Linked DNA regions of Homo sapiens: all the other regions are reported to be linked to region 4. Evidence: microRNA targets listed by miRTarBase, many of them from high-throughput screens and not tested one by one. Region 4 holds a microRNA gene; each other region holds the end of a gene's coding sequence.
Evidence for each region. Region 4 holds the annotated microRNA hsa-miR-8066 (CAAUGUGAUCUUUUGGAUGUA, at 1,617-1,637, shown strand). A microRNA usually pairs through its seed, bases 2 to 8, with sites in the 3' UTR of a target mRNA and lowers its output. Matches are read on the target gene's strand: a 7mer-m8 pairs with bases 2 to 8, a 7mer-A1 pairs with bases 2 to 7 and ends in A, and an 8mer does both.

Region 1: miRTarBase lists IAH1 as a target of hsa-miR-8066. Seed matches in the 3' UTR shown: 7mer-m8 at 1,039-1,045.
Region 2: miRTarBase lists TXLNG as a target of hsa-miR-8066. Seed matches in the 3' UTR shown: 7mer-A1 at 534-540, 7mer-m8 at 1,759-1,765 and 8mer at 2,090-2,097.
Region 3: miRTarBase lists MOCS2 as a target of hsa-miR-8066. Seed matches in the 3' UTR shown: 7mer-m8 at 791-797 and 7mer-A1 at 2,337-2,343.

The regions. Positions count from the first base shown.
Region 1 is chr2:9,488,095-9,491,340 of GRCh38, forward strand. It overlaps IAH1 (isoamyl acetate hydrolyzing esterase 1 (putative)), which reads left to right. Exons shown (of 6, transcript NM_001039613.3): 6 at 53-1,648. The coding sequence ends at 235. It overlaps ADAM17 (ADAM metallopeptidase domain 17), which reads right to left. Exons shown (of 19, transcript NM_003183.6): 18 at 3,007-3,057; 19 at 392-2,424. The coding sequence ends at 2,083. Among named protein-coding and RNA genes, the nearest start is that of IAH1, 15 kb to the left of the region's middle.
Region 2 is chrX:16,841,508-16,844,507 of GRCh38, forward strand. It overlaps TXLNG (taxilin gamma), which reads left to right. Exons shown (of 10, transcript NM_018360.3): 10 at 1-3,000. The coding sequence ends at 259. RBBP7 (RB binding protein 7, chromatin remodeling factor) reads right to left here. Exons shown (of 12, transcript NM_002893.4): 12 at 2,834-3,000. Among named protein-coding and RNA genes, the nearest start is that of RBBP7, 27 kb to the right of the region's middle.
Region 3 is chr5:53,096,092-53,099,337 of GRCh38, reverse strand. MOCS2 (molybdenum cofactor synthesis 2) reads left to right here. Exons shown (of 7, transcript NM_004531.5): 7 at 671-3,246. The coding sequence ends at 736. Among named protein-coding and RNA genes, the nearest start is that of MOCS2, 12 kb to the left of the region's middle.
Region 4 is chr4:101,239,196-101,242,441 of GRCh38, reverse strand. MIR8066 (microRNA 8066) reads left to right here and starts at 1,570; the gene lies at 1,570-1,647. All of the region lies in intron 1 of PPP3CA (protein phosphatase 3 catalytic subunit alpha), which reads left to right.

The sequences.
Region 1 (3,246 bases), not on the chromosome of region 4:
GCTACCACACGTGGCCAGTTACCCACCTTTAACCGATTTCTCTCCCTTCTAGGACTTCTCATCTTATTTATCAGATGGACTACATTTGTCTCCAAAGGGGAATGAATTTTTGTTCTCGCATCTCTGGCCTTTGATAGAGAAAAAGGTCTCTTCTCTACCTTTGCTGCTTCCTTACTGGCGGGATGTAGCAGAAGCAAAACCTGAATTAAGTCTGCTGGGAGATGGAGACCATTAGCCAATCACAGGAGACCCAAATCTGCTTGTTATCTACAGAACTCAAAGTTGTCAATACGTAGAGGTACGCTTTTTTCCTCAGGCTTAAACCTTTGCCACTGATATTAATAATAAAAGTATTAGATGATTTTTCAGGGAAGTTTTATACTTAGGTCCATTGTGTTTCGACAGTATTTATTAATGCAGATATCAGTGCTACAGCTATAAAATATACCCTGAGCAGCTTGTTAATTCTATAAATGACAAAGACTATGTTTTTAAAAAGTCACAATTTTATAAAAATGGTTTTTCTTACATTCTTTTGAGAACTGTTTCACTCATACATACACCCACACACCCCACTCAACCTTGTATCAAATTCCAAAAGTGTAACTAAAGTATAAGAATATCATGACTAGTTAAAAGATAGCAAATACCATAAGGTACAAGTTCAAGTATTAGTATAACAAGTATCTGAGTAACAAATGTCCTTGGAAATGGGGGGTAGGAGGAGATATGATTAGTCACAGGTTTGGTTAACTGCCCTCAAAATTTACAAGTTAAAATGTTTTGGCTGGTGAGCACATTTCAGTTCTTAGGGGAAAAAAAGCTTTTAATGGCAATTTATAGAAATCAGAATCCAGGCTAATGATTTTTATCCTTCACACAGTAAATGCAGCCCATCCAGAATCCTGGAGCAATAAAGTAAGAAGTAATTCAAATATCTGCTTGTGGGTCAATAAAAAGGGTTTCTGAAGTATCAAGTCTTGTGGGGACAGCCCCCAACCCTAAGGGCAGGTAGTATTCTATCTCCTGGCTGGCTCATCACATTCAAAACAACCTGTTTTTTTTGTTGTTGTTGTTGTTAAGAAATATCTCACCCTCTTATTCAATAGTGTTTGAAAACAGGCAATCTTTGTATTTTAAATATTCTAGGTTTGTAGATAGTGAATTTTTTTTTTTTTTTTTTTTTTTTGAGGCAGAGTCTCACTCTGTCACCCAGGCTGGAGTGTAGTGGCGCAACCTCAGCCTCTCCAAGTGCTGGGATTACAGGCATGAGCCACCACTCCCAGCCAATAGTGAATTTTCTAAGAGCATGTATCCCTATCAGTAACAGGGATACATGAAGATACTTATAAAATACAGAAAAACTGCCCAGCAAATCAGGGCCCTAAACAGTTGGTAGATTCCATAAATTCAACTGGCTACCATGTATAGCCCTCACTGTAAGGTAGGTGGTTAGGTTTCTAGAGAGCATTAGTCTTAGAATTATGAAGAGCCATATTAACCCAAATGATTTCTAAATTTAGATATATATTTTCCCTGCTACATAAAAACTCTGGGTAATAACTAGAAATAGACCCACAATTTAGAGACAATGTATACTAGATTTATCTCCTTTGTTTTTAGTTGAAGGCAAAAAAAAAAAAAAAAAAAAAAAACTATTCCAGTTGTCATCACAAATAAATGCCAAATGCCTCATATTCAGCGGTTCATTACAGTGTATAAAAAAAAACTGATCATTTCCCTAGTCAGTGCTGTTATCAATATAAAAGATTAATTTACAAAAACGTAAATATTCATAACCCAATCCAGCTGTATTTTCTGCTTTTGCACCACAGGTCAAAAGATATTTTAAAAACTAAAACCTGAAAGCCTCAAAATAAGCTAGATTCACCTTCACCTTACCTTTTCAAAAGGAGAAGGGCCAAACCACACAAGAACTGTTTACCTGCAGGAAGTTCAAACACATGACCAGCATCTGCTAAGTCACTTCCCAGTCTTCACAAAATACAAGCTGTGATTGATTTGTAGGTCAAATCTATAAAAATATTTTGCACACTTAAGTCAGAAGAGCTGAGAACTAAATTAGCACTCTGTTTCTTTGCTGTCAACACGATTCTGACGCTGCAGTTTAAAGGAGGCAGCCTTTTCACTTCTGGTGACCGGATGGTCCGTGAGATCCTCAAATGACTTGGCAGCTGTGCTGCTATTTGGGAAGGGGTCCTTCTCAAACCCATCCTCGTCCATATGTGAGTCTGTGCTGGGGTCTTCCTGGATGGTGTCCATTCTCTGGTGGTCCAGTTTTGGAGCTGCTGGCGCCGAAGGGATCACAGGGGCAGGCTGCAGGCGGCCTGGAGTCTGGGGCGCAGGAAAGGGTTTGATAATGCGAACCGATGCAGAATCCATGCTGCTCAGCATTTCGACGTTCTGCAAAGACATGGGTTCAATTGATTGATAGGAATAAAAGATGAATCGGAGGTCCTCACAGCTCCACCCTTACCCATCAAACAGCCTCTTATTCTGTTGGCACTGTGATGCTAAGAAAAAAGTGCTAGGTGAGGCTCACTCAACCTAAGTGACTAAAAAATACTAGGTTGGTGCAAAAGTAATTAATGCCATTACTTTTAATGGCAAAAACAGTAATTACTAGCTTTCAAGCATCCTGAAAACTTACTTACCATTTGAAGACCCAAAAGAGGATTCAAACCTCTCAAGGTAAGATCCCAAGAGAGAAATTGAACTCAAAATATTAACTAAGTGTTGAATGGCTAAATCACTCCTTATGGCTTGGGAAGGGGACAGCACAGCTCTTTAAATGTCCATCCATGCAACTAATCGAAGTTCACCATCACTGTTGTCAGAAGGGTAAACATTCCAACCTAGACCCTTCCTGCTGCAACATGACCTTCCATCAGCCAGTGAAAGCTCTTGCTGGGTCAGGTGAAGGTCTTTGCCTAACAGGGCCTCAGACCAGGCGAAGATTATGTTTCTTTCATATGGTATACTTACACTGGGGTGAAACAGAGACAGAGATTCATACTGTTTATCCAATTTCTTATCCTAGAAAGAAACAGCAAGAAGGTCATTCCCTACAAATACAATTCAGTTAGTGAGTACTATTTCATCACAGGCTATTCCTAACACTAACTGAAGAACTTAGAACCTGAGTTGTAGAAAGTGATAGCAGGCTCAACAGATGACAATCCATTTCTCACCCAAGCTTTAGTTATGCCACCAGTCTAGAAGTGT
Region 2 (3,000 bases), not on the chromosome of region 4:
AGAAAGGAATGAGCTCAATGAGAAGGTGGAAGTCCTGAAAGAGCAGGTATCCATCAAAGCGGCCATCAAAGCGGCGAACAGGGATTTAGCAACACCTGTGATGCAGCCCTGTACTGCCCTGGATTCTCACAAGGAGCTGAACACTTCCTCGAAAAGAGCCCTGGGAGCGCACCTGGAGGCTGAGCCCAAGAGTCAGAGAAGCGCTGTGCAAAAGCCCCCGTCCACAGGCTCTGCTCCGGCCATCGAGTCGGTTGACTAAGATGAGGTGTGATCACTGTATTGAGAGATATATTTTGTGTATAACTTTCTCTGTTAGTAGTTAACTATTGGTTTTGTGGTGAAAATTTTCTTACTTTTTCTACCATATCTGTATTTTCTTAGAACTACTGGACTTATGTGGTACAGGAGGCTGCTTAGCAGTTTTGAATAGTTTAATCTATAAATTTTCCTCAGCTGTGTTGCACATCAGCCTCGTTCTCCCTCCACTGGAATGCATGTGTTCATTGCCTTGTCCTTTCTCTCCCTGCTCCTTGCACATTATCATCCTAATGAAAATTTCACTGACAGGGCCGACCATTACAAGGGAACTTTGTTCTGACGATGGTTCCTTGATGTGAAAACAATATTAATTTAAACGTCTTAGCCCCCCCCCCCATAATATTATTCAGAAAAACAAAATACCAAGGCGATTAGTTTTGTCTAATAACCCATTTAAATGCCAAGTAAAAATAAAACTCCTAGTGTTGGGTCAGAAGCATATTTGATTGAAATTAGCTTTTTGAAAACATTTATATCTCGGGACAAATTGAGATGGCCACATGCCTAGAATCCTAAGTTTCGGCAGAATATGTATATAAAGATGTCACTTGTGGACAAAATAGTACATAGAGGCAAATCACTAGACAAATAAGCTTAGTGTTTACGTGACTGAACAGTCATCCTGCTTTGGTTTCAGGTGTGGGATTTGGACCATGAGGGGCTCCCGTAGAGGATGGCGGTTTGTGTTTGATTCTGATTTGGGATTTCAGTACATATTCTCCACTTCCCATAGAAGGCCACTTATTCTTTGAAAACTGGTGTTCATGTTTGCCGTTCAATGAAGTCCCTTGTCAAAGACAAGGACGGTCAATTCACGTGTCACTTTCACTAGGCAGAAGTTTCTCCAATACCTTCTGGCTACTTGAAAGTTACTACAAAAATTCCACCAGCAAAGTACTCCAGGTTTTTCAAAAGGGAATTTTCATTATGGATCAGTACCAACCGAAATTGATTTTCATTTCCAAAACAAACACTGGCACCAACATTTTTACTTTGGGAAGACTTGGCAGAGTGTTAGTCATGATCTGTTACTTACGTGTTCAGTCTGTTTTCTCACCCCCTTCTTAGTTACCATCTCTTTTTTAAGAAGAAAAAAGAAAAGCCACAGTATTATCAAGGTCTCTACACTTGGACTGGGGGAAAATTTGAAATTAAGCACATAACTTTTGAATTAGTTCTTTGTTTCAATGTTGAATGTGGCGCAGTTATGCAGATGATTAATCAGGCTGCACTGATGGAAGTTTTGACTTTGTCCCTGGTATAATTTGCATTGAAATGCTTTATGAAATAAAAGGTTCTACTAGAACTGATGTTAGCACATTCCACTGAGCAAAACTATCAGACTGACACTTGTTAAATTGCTTACTGGACTGAATAAACTCTGTTTTGTCCAGTTAAAAGGGTTTTCTCTTTGTTACAAGTGTTATTTGTAAAGTCCTGTCACATTCATGGTCGAAACTGGGTTGAAAGAATTGAAAATTGTCCAACAGATAGATAGATAGGAAACCGCCTGGAGTGGAGGAGGGTTGTATCTAAGCCTCCACTATCAGTCATGTTAATTCAAGGGGCCACAGTGGAGGAAAATAAATCCACAAAGTAGATTATCTAATTACCATCAAAATGAGTCAGAAGCAAAAAACACCACCCTCCAACAGCCTCTTAGGAGTACACCCTGTTCTGCTACTAAAATACTAGACTCATTTCCCTGGTGGTGGGGGGGAATGCAGGTATAGATCAGAAATATAATCCACCTTAAAATTAGTACTAATGATCACATTATTTCACAAGAACTCTGCTGGATGTACAGCTCTTAACATTTTATTAAGCCATTTGTGTAGCCCACCACGTTTCTTTGTGGTGCTTGTCCTGTGTGGAAGATTGTAAATCTTGGGCCTGTTGCATACTTCCAAGGGCTTTAAAGCAATGTGATTAACAGTACTTGGCCTGCTGCTTTTGGCTTACTTTGTATTTTTAGCTAGATGCTATTATAGTGTTGAAAGGATATGGATTCTGTCTGGGATGCATTTGTTGTCCTTTCAGAACCCTTCCTCCCATTACCCTGTGAATAAAAACAAATGGGACCCCCTGAGAAGGACATCTTCCTACAGTGATCACCTCACCAGCCCAGTGTTGTGGCTTTGTAGCGCACCCCGTATCTACCATATTCTAGAACACTGTAATGCTACTAGGCTGGCCCAGAAAAGGTTTAAATGTTGAATTCACTTAAATTGCAATTGTTGCACCATCATGGAATCGTGATGTGTATTATTTATATTGGCGGTGGACTCCAAGGTGTAGAGAAAACTTGGGTCTTGGGTAATATGGACCATTTCATCCTCAGACTTGTTAGGAGTACATTTCTTGGTCTTGAGACCAGTATTTTTCAGTTATGTATGCAACTGCCTTTATTACACCTGGTTATCACAATTCAATTCTCAGGTGTTGCAGAAAAATCTACCTCTTTCAGACTGTAGATGGAAATAACTGTGAAAAAAATGATGCAGATATCTTCTAGTTTGTGCTAAACACACTGCTTTATTTTTACAGCCCACGTCTTTCATGAGGATACGAATTGTTAAGAGGCAGTCTCGTTTTGCTTTTCAAAGACATTTTGTAGAGATTTTTCACTAATGTGAATCTGATTTTATCTACTTGATTCTGTATAGATTAAGTAAATATGTA
Region 3 (3,246 bases), not on the chromosome of region 4:
AGATGGGAGCAACCCCAGAAATACAGGTAATGAGCAGGAGTTGGGGCATATTCTTGTTTTCATGCTTTGAGGACTAGTTGGGCTTCGTATTTTGCTTTTGTTTGTCCATAGAGAGTCCGAGGAAGTGCAGGAGTTCAGAGGACAGTTGAATTTGAATTCCTCTCCCTACAGAAATGGAATGTGACTAGAGAGTGAGAAGAGAAAGTGATATGTTCTCCTTACCCCTCCTTTCCACAAACTATGTAACTTCTAGTCTGGTTCTAGTCTCGGCCTGTGCTTTGAGATCATCTGTGATATAGGGAAGGGTGGCAGGTAGGTAGAGTGCATATGTCAAAGAACAGCTCATACCAGAGGGCAGCTCAAACTTGTTTAGGAACTTCTGAGAGGTGACCACTTAATTCAACAGCTAATGAAGATATCTGCCTTTGGAAAAGCATATTTAGAAATGTTGAAGTAGTAGGTATGTTTGGAAAGAAAAAAAAATGTTTAAAACTAAAGACTTTCTGTCTTCCCCTATGTAACCTTGCCCATGATGTCTCTCGTCATGATTGTTAAAAGAGGAGCCATTGAAATAGATGTGATATTCATTTGTCTGATTTATTCAAATATATTTTATATTCGTATAGTAGAATGGTCTATTTTTAATACCTGTTATGATTTTGTTTTTTAGGAAATATACGAAGAGTCATCAACTTGGAAAGGAAACAAAGAGTGCTTTTGGGCATCCAACAGTTAATCACTTATGTTTTTAGAGCATGCAATCTTAACTTTGTTAAACTATTATTATTGATCACATTTTGATTTTTTTCTCTCCACATCAGGATAGTTTACTGAAGCACAATCTCTTATACTAGTGGGACAAAAGGGAGAAAAAGGAAGCAAGATAAATGGGTATGTAGGATGAAGGGTTATTTAAAATGGAACTAAAGATAGAAGGAGGACTGTAGGAAGAAATGGAATAATTTAAATGTGAGGAAAGATATCTGTGGTAGACATGTCCTTCCATGACTAATTTCTAATTGTAACTCAACACACATTGAGGTATGGGCCCTCCTCAGTGACTTTAACTAGCTCAGAAACGTACTCCCCCACCAACCCCACCTCACCGCCCCCCATCCCGGTTCTGGGAGAGCATTGTTATTAAGGATGCATGACAGGAATGTTGGCAGAACTGGAAAGTATTAAAAAAGCATTATCAGACAGTCTTGATATTATACATTTTCAGAAATATATTAAAAATAATAAACTAAAACCCATGATTTCAAAAGTTTAAAAAGAGTATTTTCTTTTTTTTTAAATTGCCTAAAATAGTTCTCATTATGGAGATTTCTGGGATTTCAGAATCTATAATCTTACCAGAAAACTTTTTGTTGTTTTTTATTAGTTGTTAATTTTGTATCAATATACAAATCAGCACAAAATTGTCATAAAGCTAACTAGCAACAAGGTGGTTTGTGTTGAAATGTTTAGGTAAACAATGCCCCAATTTTTAACTGGTTAAGCTTTATAGTATTTTGATAGACTTGTACATATAAGTCCCATATAGTTCTTAAATTTTTTTTTCCAGCTTTATTTAGGTATACTTGACAAAAATTGTATGTATTTAAAGTATACAATGTGATTTTTGATACACATATACATTGTGAGGTGATTACCATAATCCAACTAATTAACATATTCCTCAGCTCACATAGTCCCCTCTTCTGTGTGGTGAGAATATTTAAGGTCTACTCTCAGCAAATTTCAGGTAAACACATAGCTCATAAAATAATAAAATACAGGCAAAATTTGGGCAGTCGGCATCATCACAAAATTTGCATTATGCATATTAAGAACAAAAGCTATACTTTCAGACACTTAGATTGAAGGATTTTTTTCTTATGTCTGGGACAAATAAGAAACGTAGTAATCCTATTTGTTATATGTAGTGAAAACATCTTTTACCTAAGGAACCCATTTATTCAACAAATATTTATTGAATGCCTGTTTTGTGCCAGGCACCCACCCAGTGATCTTTTTCTGCCAACCTAAAATACCTTGAGGAACACTCTGCATCTTATCTGTGGCTGGGACCCATAGGACAGCCACACTGACTTTAGGAATCACCTGGTTACATCAGTTGATGCTTGTTCATTAGTCCGTCTGGAGAGATTGGGCCAGAAGGATACTGGAAGGGCAGACAAACCCTCCGCCTACTTCCTCTGCCGGGTTCGGGTTGCCTGTTTGGTCTCAGCCTTACCTTCACAGTTCAGTGTCACTCTGGCTTGCCATCGAGCTTCCGCCTGTCCCCATTGGAGAGAAGGGGTGGGTGTTGGCTGTTGCATTATATCTAAAAGCACATTATCATGGGGTTACTGGGTCACTGGACATTTCTAGGATTTTGGACATAGGTTGTTAAATGGATGTTATGTCATATGCAATGTTGATAGGTATATGTGGATTTCAAGACTTTCCTACTTAGATATTTCTTTAGAAGTTCCTTATTGAGGGTAATGATGTTTTTAAAGAACATAGAACATTCTTTATGTTTTAAAAGAATCATGCCTTCATTAAGTAGGCTTTATTCTAAGTTTGGAACTGAGACTGTTATGCTTTTAAAGTCTCCAACAGAGAGGTTAAGGAGTTAACCTGGGGCATGCCAGAACTGGGATGGAATGGCCTTGAAAGATTTTAGTGCATTGCACTTGACTTAGATAGGATCTTTACTGACCCTTGCTTACTTAGGAGTGGCAGAGTTAATTGGTGGTTCAGATATTAAGGGGCTACTGTCACTCTGATATGTAGCTTTTCTATCATCTCTGTAACTTAGCTTCAAGTAACTAGAAGAGTAATCTAAAAAAAATAATTAGCCTTTAATCAGATTGCCTGCAGTGTTTCTTGGTCACTTTAAAGCCGTGACTTTGCATGATTGCTAGGTAAGTTCACTTAAGAAATAGGAAATTCAAATTATTTATGTTTCAAGTATTTTTGAACAGGTGGTAAAATGAAATTGATTTTTATCATCTTTGAATGAAAGTAACAGCAGATATTCAATGAGTGACTTATTTTGTGGACATTTTTGTCCTTTGGATATGATGTATAGAGTCACAATATATTTTCAGCCTTTTTTGAGAAATAAGTGATTTAGACATCTTACACAGTTACTGAGCACCTGGTACAGTGAAGATCTCTCAAGAATGATTTGTGTGATGTAGTTCGGTGGATCATCCAGCAGAGGGCAGTAGAGCCAGAGCCATAGTAAAAGTT
Region 4 (3,246 bases):
CTGTTTCTCCTTAGGACTTGTGTATTTGACTAATAGCTTACCAGTTTTCAATTGGAAATAAGTGATTTTTTAAAATGTAGTTTTCAGGTCATCTCACATAAGTATGTTTTGTGTCTTAATTAGATTTTAAAAATAACTGATTAAAAAAAGTAACTGATTAAGGTCATGTCTTTAATTGCTTATCTATCCCCATTCAGTGTCTAATATGATGCTTATTGCAGTCATTAGTAAATAAACCATTAATGAGCTAATGCTGTCTGTAAACATTCATGTAATCTAGGTGTTTCTACTATGAGTCTTAAGAATTTCATTTTTAAGCATTTTTATATCTACACAAAACAAGATGCTCAATTACAAGTATATTTGGGGAACAGAGAAGGAAGTATTTTGAAGGCAGAAGAGTGAAACAGGTTATGTAATTGATAAGATGCCATAAAACTGATATCTTATAGTTCCAGAATATTAAAAGAATTATGACTGTGTAGCACAGTACAGTTAACAACAATCCTGAATTGATTTTACCTGAAAATACTATTTTGGTCATGTACTGTAACATTTGTACAGATACACTTAGCAATTTGACTAAGTGTACATGTATTAATGAATTCATTTTTAGTTTAAAAGCATGGTCACTGGAATCAGATTTTCTAGCTTTGAGTTGAGACTGTGTGATTTTTGGTATATTATCTAGCCCTGTATTTTAGTTTAAGTAATTTAAATGAAGTAAAAAAATAAAGCAAATAAAGATTTACAGGTGAAATAGATTCTAATAATACATTCTATCTCAGGAAGGTATTGTCAGGTTAATATTTCTAGTCTTTAAAACAGGACCTGGAAAATAGTAAGCATTGGATTAATATTGGCTATTGTTATAGACAACTAAATATTCTACAATATGACATTAATATAAATATAAAATAAAATGATTGGAATAATTTGATTTCAGGTTTAGAAATTATTTTAAAATATTCTTTCTTTTATTCAACAAATATTTGTTGAGCGCTTTCTTTTTTCGTTAGAGTTAGCAACATTAATATCACCTGTAATTTGTGTTATCTTTGATCTTTATAGTGCTCTAACATTTACAAAGGCCTTCCACATATTATCTTAGGTGGCTTTCCTGTCAAAACTATGAAGCAGCTAGGAAAAATGATATTGCTGGTTTATAGATGAAGCACCTTTCCATAGGAGTGCAAAGGTTTACCTCATTGCAAGAATGAAAGCCTAGGTCACTTCTCTTTTCACTGTACCATACCATCTCCTCTTATGTATCTTGGCCAGGCATGTTGGCTTATGCTTGTAATCCCAGAACTTTAGGAGGCTGAAGCAGGAGGATTGCTTGAGTCCAGGAGTTTGAGACCTTCCTGGGCAACATAGGGAGACGCTGTCTCTACAAAAAATTAAAAATTAGCCAGCTGTGGTAGTGCGCACCTGTTCCTAGCCACTTAGGAGGCTGAGGTGGGAGGATTGCTTAAGCCTGGGAGGTCAAGGTTGCAGCCTGGATGACAGAGCAAGACTGTCTCAAAAATAAAAAAGAAAAATAGAAAAAGAAAAGAAGAAGAAGAAAATCATCTTGCTTACATTCCTGTGGAACATATTGTTGCCTCTGCATGTTACAATGTGATCTTTTGGATGTAGGGCAAATCTGTGTTGACTTGGAGTCTTCTAAGGTTGGATCACAGTAATTCCATCCTTATTATTTTTTTAAATTTTTAGAAAGATTTTCTGAATATTAGCAAATTTTGTGTATTTTAAAATTGAAAGTATTTGATTTATTGAGAAAACATTTAAATTCTGATGTGTCTTTTTATTCTTTTGTGTCTGTCTTACCCAAATCCTGCTTTCTCTTTTTATTTTTTCCTGTTTGCGTATCTGATTTCCCAGCCTCCCACATTGTAGATTCCAAGACCAACCTGGTTATTTTTCTTTAAACACAAACAGAAATCTTAATAAAGGGTGGGGGGAACAAAACTGCCCATCAGACATGTAATGGGTTTCTCTAATATACCTGAATGAATTGATTACTCTAGCAGCTCACTCAGTGGAATAAAAAGTGAAAGGCACTCGTCATGTAGTTGTAAATTTATTCATTGCAAAGAGCCTCCATTAATTTTATGTAATTTGGTACTTCCCAGTAGTTGCTACTGGAGTGGTTTTGTGTAATGATGTCCTCTGGAGGAACTCTATTGCATATATAAATTTTAAAGGGCGAAAAGATCCTCAGAGAACTCACAATCTTAACTGTTGTTTTGTTCCTGTGTGTACTCTCACTTTTAGAAATGCGTTCATCTGCTGTATTTCTGAACCTAAGTATGTGCAGAACTATAGCAATAAAATTATGTACAAACCAGTTGATCTTGTGTTCCAGTAACTATCTACCTCACCTCCCCCCCGCTCCCCCCAAAAAAAAACCAAAAAAATTAAAAACTAGTCACTGTAGGCTCTTTTTATTTTAAACCCCCTTAATCAAATGATGCTAGATTATATTTGCTTAAGATCTGCCTGATGTCAGTGTACAGTAAAATGTGTTTTACTGTACCCTTGGTGCACTACATTTTAACTGTTGTTGTATCTAAAGAGTGAGATGCCTTTTCATGCCTATGGAATCCCTGATGTAATTGAGAACCTAAAGGAGTAATGACTTTGATGAGGCAGTTTTAGCCAGTGCTGAGCTCTCAACTTTTATTACTGAATATCAATTTTGTATACAAGGCCCATGGCAGTCTTAATATGCCTTCATATTTTATCTTGGGTGTGACTGGAGAACAGTTGGGAAAGCAGAGGTAAACCATTAAAATGATGACCATTTTTAGCATTTTTACTGTCTACTTGTGAGTTTGTATTTAGCTATTTTCATATTTACCATCTACTTGCTTTTGTGTGGGTGTGTGTGGATTCTTCTTGCTTCCAAATTGTGATAACTAAATTTCCTAATTGTCCTTAGGTCTTGTCCTATACTTAAGTGGAATTGTTTTCTTCTGGAATTCTCTTTCTTCTGTTGGTAGACAGAATTTCAAAATTCAGTTTCTTGTTTGTTGGCATGTTTGTTTGCTTTCAATTAGACAATTCGATTTTGAGATAACTTTACTGAGAAAGCAAAAGGGAGTAATCAACAGTGACATCAAACTGTTTTAGTGCTTTTGGAATAAGATTAAACCAAATGTTTAAATTTTGTTGAAAAGCAGAATTTAGTGAGACTGTGCCTTTTTAAGAAAATTACTTATTTGCTTCTGAGAAGGGTGAGAT